2 separate regions of the Homo sapiens genome follow, and region 2 is reported to be linked to region 1. The links are microRNA targets in miRTarBase. Many come from high-throughput screens and were not tested one by one. Region 1 holds a microRNA gene; the other region holds the end of a gene's coding sequence.
The links. Region 1 holds the annotated microRNA hsa-miR-4762-5p (CCAAAUCUUGAUCAGAAGCCU, at 1,572-1,592, shown strand). A microRNA usually pairs through its seed, bases 2 to 8, with sites in the 3' UTR of a target mRNA and lowers its output. Matches are read on the target gene's strand: a 7mer-m8 pairs with bases 2 to 8, a 7mer-A1 pairs with bases 2 to 7 and ends in A, and an 8mer does both.

Region 1 (3,152 bases):
GAGATTTAAATCTTTAGAGTTAACAAGATTTAATGTAATTTAGACATTATTCTTACTTAGAAGTACCATTCTTATTTAAAGGCAGTATATCTCATATCTTTAAAGATAACTTTAGAAACTTACTGCCAGAGAAACAAATATTGATTAAGAGCACACTGTGTGCCAAGCATTATGCGAGGTGCTGGAGAGAAGGAAGGGGAAGAAAAGGTCCTCACCCTCAAGTAACTTGAAGCTTAGAGGGACAATGATAAATAGTAAAAGATTCTAGAGTCCGGGCATGGTGGTTCACACCTGTAATCCCAACACTTTGGGAGGCTGAGGTGGGCGGATCACCTGAGGTCAGGAGTTCAAGACCAGCCTGGCTAACATGGTGAAACCCTGTCTCTACTAAAAATACAAAAAGTAGCCGGGCGTGGTGGCGCATGCCTGTAATCCCAGCTACTCGGGAGGCTGAGGCGGGAGAATCACCTGAACTCGGGAGGCAGAGGTTGCAGTGAGCCGAGATAGCATCACTGCACTCCAGCCTGGGCAGAGCAAGACTCCGTGTCAAACAAACAAACAAAAAAGATTCTAGAGCAGTCTGATCAGGGTGAGGGTTCCGTACTCTTCTTGTGCCATGAAGCAGGAGGAAAGGCCTCCTGAGGGAGCTGAGGCTGCACGAGGATGAGCAAGGTTTCATAATGTCCTCCAGAGGCCAGTTTACCAAGCTGCATCAGCTCCTCCCTCCCAGCCACCCTGCCCTTCATAAAGCTCTAGTTTTGTAGGGGATGGGGTGGGATGGGGTCACACCTCAGCTGCCGGCATGAGCTAAGGGACCATATAACAGTCAGCACTGTCCATCGCTTGCTTCTCTCTCTTTCTAATTTACATACAGCTAAACACAGATTTTTAATGAATGGCTGATAAGTTTTGACAGATGTCTGCACCTGTGTAATTATCACCCCAGTCAAGGTACAGAGAGCACCTCTATCCCCTCAGAAAGTTTTTTCCATGCTGGCTGTTGTGTGCCAGTGTGCCAGGAGAGCATGGGGCAGGGGAATGATGGCCCTAAGAAAGGAAGGAGGAACAGGGGGAATCTTGAATTACATTCTTTCCCCACGTGGAGATAGATTTGTGCTAATTCCACAACGTGGAACATCCTCCTTCGTTTGCTTAGACTTCCCTGGGAGCAGTAGCCCATGTACTGGTGGCCTAGCTCAACTGTGGCTTGGTTCTGGGCCTGTAAAGCCATCTTTCCCACCTACAGATGACATTCCCTATCTTCATCATGTGCTTTTAGTCAGGTTTCCTGCGGGCCAGATGCATCTGAGAGTGTGCCCTCATTAATATGGGACTCTGTGTATGTCCAGCACATGTGGGGTTTATTCACGTACCAGTGATTATTATTCAACATCGTTCCCTTTAGTGCAGCAAGCACTTTCTGAGTGCTTACCATGTGCCACTTTCTGTGAACCTCTGCAGTTCAACAGTGGAGTCAGAGGCAGTCCTTGTTCTCAAGTAGCTCATGATCTACTGTGGGAGACAGATGGCTAGATGATAGGGTGTAGTCATATCCCATTATTTCTGATACCCCAAATCTTGATCAGAAGCCTTGATCAGAAGCTAGGAAGGCTTCTGATCAAGATTTGTGGTGTCAAGAATAACAACGATTACAGCAATAGTAGTTGCTTATTGAGTGTGTCCTGTGTCCTAGGCACAGTTCTGAGTATTCGTCTCTTACCTCATTTAATGATGATACCTCTCCCATGTTGCAGATGAGGAGACTGAGGGCCAGAATGGTTCAGTAGTGTACCCAAGGCCACACAGCTGTTAAGTGGCATGAGAAAGAAAGAAACTTTCATTTTAAGCCTCTTAGATTTTTGTGGATTGTTTGTTACTGCAGCACGAACCAGCCCATCCTCACTGATAAGAGCCCCAGTGTGCGGAGTGGATTCCTGAGCCAGTTAAAAGGTTGCTACAGCAGTGGAGGCCTGGTTGGAGGGTGGTGATAAGCCTGGAAATAAAAGGACATATGTGAGAGACAGTAATTTGATAAAGAGTAATGAAAGAGGAAGCTTTCTTTCAGGTAGCTTATTCTGTTTCATTATTGTTGTTTTCCTTTTGGGAAAGAAGTTGAATTTTCATTGTTGGCTTATGTTTTCAAGGGTGACCTCAGTATTTTATTTTATTTTATTTTTTTGAGACGGAGTCTTGCTCTGTCGCCAGGTTGGAATGCAGTGGCGTGATTTCGGCTCACTGCAACCTCCACCTCCCAGGTTCAGGCGATTCCCCAGCCTCAGCCTCCCAAGTAGCTGGGACTTTAATGTTTTTATATTGGTGATTTTGAGCAGAGACTGTATTACCATCTAAAACACTACAAGCCTAGCATGTAAGCTCCATGTCTGTTTGCTCCTCATTCTCTCCAGGGCCCCTGGCACAGTTCCGGGCCCACAGTGAGTGCTCTGTAAACTTTTAGGGATGAACAAATGAATATTTTTAAATCTGTTCATTGTTTTCACAGTTAAACTTTTCTAAGCACTTATGTAATACTGTGTTTACTTAATTTTCATTTCTCACCAACCTTTATGGAAGACTAGGTGATAACTGGTTAAATTGTAATACAGTATCATAGGTATAATCTCGAAAAGGTAAAAATCAAATGTAACGAAGCATTATAATCCAGTGACTGGAACATTTTATGCAAGCCTTTGCTCTTTATTTATCTATTTTTTTATCATACACTTCTTCCCAGTTTTTGCTTAGTCCTTGTTAGCAGTTACATTAAAATCTGTTTTAAGTTCCACCTCAGGGAATATCAAAAGTTGGTTACTTTTCTAAATGGGCCTTTAATTAAAATTTTAAAAAATTAGACCATTGTGTTAGATTTTTTAAAATGTTGGCTAAAACAGAAAAGGTTGATTTCAGTGCAGTTGGGCTGAAACTATACTTAAATAGATTAAAGTATAATCTGGCTTTTAAAAAAAACACATCTGACTGGGATGAAGTAGTTGTGGTCTTAACTGAAGCAGGTGAATGGACCATATTCGCCTTTAAGAGCCTTCTGACTCCCAGGTTTTCTGATTTTTAAAAACTTCCTATTTAGTCATATGTTTTTACTTCACTTTATGGTTTAAGTGAGCCAACCAACAAAAGTTACTCATAAAAGATAGTAT
Region 2 (3,000 bases), not on the chromosome of region 1:
TGCCTGCCCGGGAGCCCTGGAGGACATCTGCGACCCTGCCGAGGAACCCGCGGCCAGCCCGGGCGGCCCCTCCGCCTCGCGGGCGGCGTGGGAAGCCTGCTGTCACCCGCCGGAGGTGGTGCCGGGGGCCTTAAGCGCGGACCCCCGGCCTTTAGCCGTTCGCTTAGAGGGCGCAGGCGCGTCGAGTCCCGGCTGCGCGCTGCGCGGGGCCGGCGGGCTGGAGCCCGGGCCATTGCCAGAAGACGTCTTCTCGGGGCGCCAGGATTCACCTTTCCTTCCCGACCTCAACTTCTTCGCGGCCGACTCCTGTCTCCAGCTATCCGGAGGCCTCTCCCCTAGCCTACAGGGTTCTCTCGACAGCCCGGTCCCTTTTTCCGAGGAAGAGCTGGATTTTTTCACCAGTACGCTCTGTGCCATCGACCTGCAGTTTCCCTAACCTGTTTCCTCCTCCCGGTCCTTTCGACCCCCGCGCTCCTTGGCCGTCTACTGGAAAAATCGAGCCTCTCCCACCCTCAGTCGCATAGACTTATGTGTTTTGCTAAAATTCAGGTATTACTGAATTAGCGTTTAATCCACTCCCTTTCTTCTTCTTCTAAAATATTGGGCACTCGGTTATCTTTTAAAATTCACACAGAAAAATTCCGTTTGGTAGACTCCTTCCAATGAAATCTCAGGAATAATTAAACTCTAGGGGGACTTTCTTAAAAATAACTAGAGGGACCTATTTTCCTCTTTTTTATGTTTTAGACTGTAGATTATTTATTAAAATTCTTTAATAATAGGAAAAGGGGAAAGTATTTATTGTACATTATTTTCATAGATTAAATAAATGTCTTTATAATACCAAAACGAGTGTTTGTGTTGGGACCTAAACTCTTTCCCCGCGGCCCCAAGGCCGGTCCTCACCCCTCCAGGACCTGTGCGAAGTTGATTAGGTTCAGCGGCCCATATGGCAGCAAAGCCTCCAGGGCCGGCGAAGTCCGGGTGGTACAAAGGTGACCCGATTGATGGCCGCTTCGCCCACGGCTCCGGCAAAAGTCGGGAGTTTGCAGGAAGCTGGGTCACCTCCCCGCCCCTCAGCAGAGGGTCTTTGGTCCTGAGCGGGTGGTTCTGGGGCCTCTGCTTGGAAATAGAGATGGGCAGGTCGAGGGAGAGAGTGTACAGCGAACAGAGGAGGGTGAAAGGAGAGGAAGCCTGTGGACAGTCTTCAGGGTCGTGGCGGGGGCAGAAGTTTACTGGAATTGGGAACAATCCAAGGGCTTCCTAGGCTTTTGCTTCTTATGACCGAAGCCGGTGTAGGACCTTTTTCCGAACTCAAGAAGCCTAGGGACGCGAGGCCTGGGGCTTGAGCCGGGCCTCTTTGGGAGCTGTAGGTGGCTCTCCAAGGAGTGGAGTGGGGTCGGGGATTTTCTCGGGAAGCAGGGTCCCGCACCCAGGGATGGTAACTGGCTTCCCAGTGGGCAAGAAAAGAGGCCAGCTGAGAAATGTGGCGCTGCCGGGACACCCATGGACTCGGGCTGCTGGGGTTTGGGAGACCATCCAAGCAGCAGCCGGGCGAGAAGCCCAGGGTGGCCCGGCAGCGTCGCGAGGCGCTGGACCTGCGGGGAGAGAAGGAGGAGCGAGGAGAGCGGGAGGGAGACAGGGAAGCAAAGACGATGCTCAAAATGGCGCTGGGGCCGGGCGGCGGGCCGGGGGGGGGGCGAGGGAAGAAGCTGTGGCCGCCATGACAGCCGCTGCAGGAGGCGCCGGCCCAGCCGGGATCTGCCCCCGCCCCTGCGTCCTCCCAGCTGGATTTTCCAGAGGCCAGGGAAGAAGGGGAGCCTGGGGGGTCCCACCTTCGTTTTAGTTAGTTTGATTTTTTTATTTTTAAAGTGGAGCCCAACGGACGCTGAGGACGCGAGATGGAAGGAGAGTCCGGGTGGATGTGGGAAGGGAAGGAGAGCGGCGGGTCTGCGGGCCTGGGTGTGCCTCATCCAGTCTGACTTTTGATTCTTCGCTGTGGGATTTGAAGCCAGGCCAGAGCTTTCTCTGAATGCAGACCCACCAGTCTTGACCAACAACTTCATTTCACGTATCAACACCATGTCCTGTCTATCCCCCACCACACCCTGCCTGGTTCCTTGTAAACCTGGTAAGCGGGAAGCAAGGATCGATCTCCCCCATCTGCCTCCTGGTTTGTTCTGGGAAGGTGGAGGTTTAAAGGTCCCCGGAAAGCCATCCATCCTCCTTAGGTTTCTTTAATATTTCTCCCGCTCAGAAACAGACACTACGGGGCTATCTCCCCGGCAGATGCTGCCCTTCTCAAAAAGCAGTTTATTTCCTGGGCCTCCAGACTTTCCCCTGGACCAACAGGACCGGGATTTAGAGTACCAGTCACCCAGAGGCAGCAATTGTCAGGATAAGCCAGGAGCCAACATAGGTTGTGACACAGAGGACTAGACAGGCCCTTTGCATATTTTAAAATGGGTCCCTCAGTGTGGGAAGTACACACCTCTTAGTTAGCTGGAACTTAATCCCTTAAACTGTCTTAATATAGAATTCATCTCGTGCATTAATCTTACATCATGTTAAATTGCACTTATTTCTCTCATAAATAAATATAGAACAATTAGATGTGTTATAATAATGTCATGTATCTTATTTTCCCTCATAAAATATATAGGTATGAAATAAATTCAATATATTAAAGTAGTAATACACAGCTTATTGGCTTATGTGTTTATTTTCCCCATAAATAAGGGAATATACAATATATTAAAACTACGCTATACATCTCATTGGGCTGTGTGTTTATTTCTCCATAAAATATGCCCACAGGCAGTGTTTAACATCTTAAAAATCACAGCACACAAGCCATCTCTACACTAGCAAAATGAACAGATATTTCAGCTGGGGCTTTGATTTCTATGGACAGTCAAACTAGATAATTTGGTCTAATTAAAAATGCTCTTGCAGCTAGCTATAGCAGGTTGTTACAAAGATCAAGAATATCACAAGGAT

Region 2: the mRNA of HOXB2 is a reported target of hsa-miR-4762-5p. The part of its 3' UTR that is shown has no 7-base or 8-base seed match.

Annotation. Positions count from the first base shown.
Region 1 is chr22:45,758,961-45,762,112 of GRCh38, forward strand. MIR4762 (microRNA 4762) reads left to right here and starts at 1,564; the gene lies at 1,564-1,638. All of the region lies in intron 9 of ATXN10 (ataxin 10), which reads left to right.
Region 2 is chr17:48,540,504-48,543,503 of GRCh38, reverse strand. HOXB2 (homeobox B2) reads left to right here. Exons shown (of 2, transcript NM_002145.4): 2 at 1-849. The coding sequence ends at 436. Among named protein-coding and RNA genes, the nearest start is that of HOXB-AS1, 2.3 kb to the left of the region's middle. RefSeq lists an enhancer at 1-172 and a silencer at 1-269.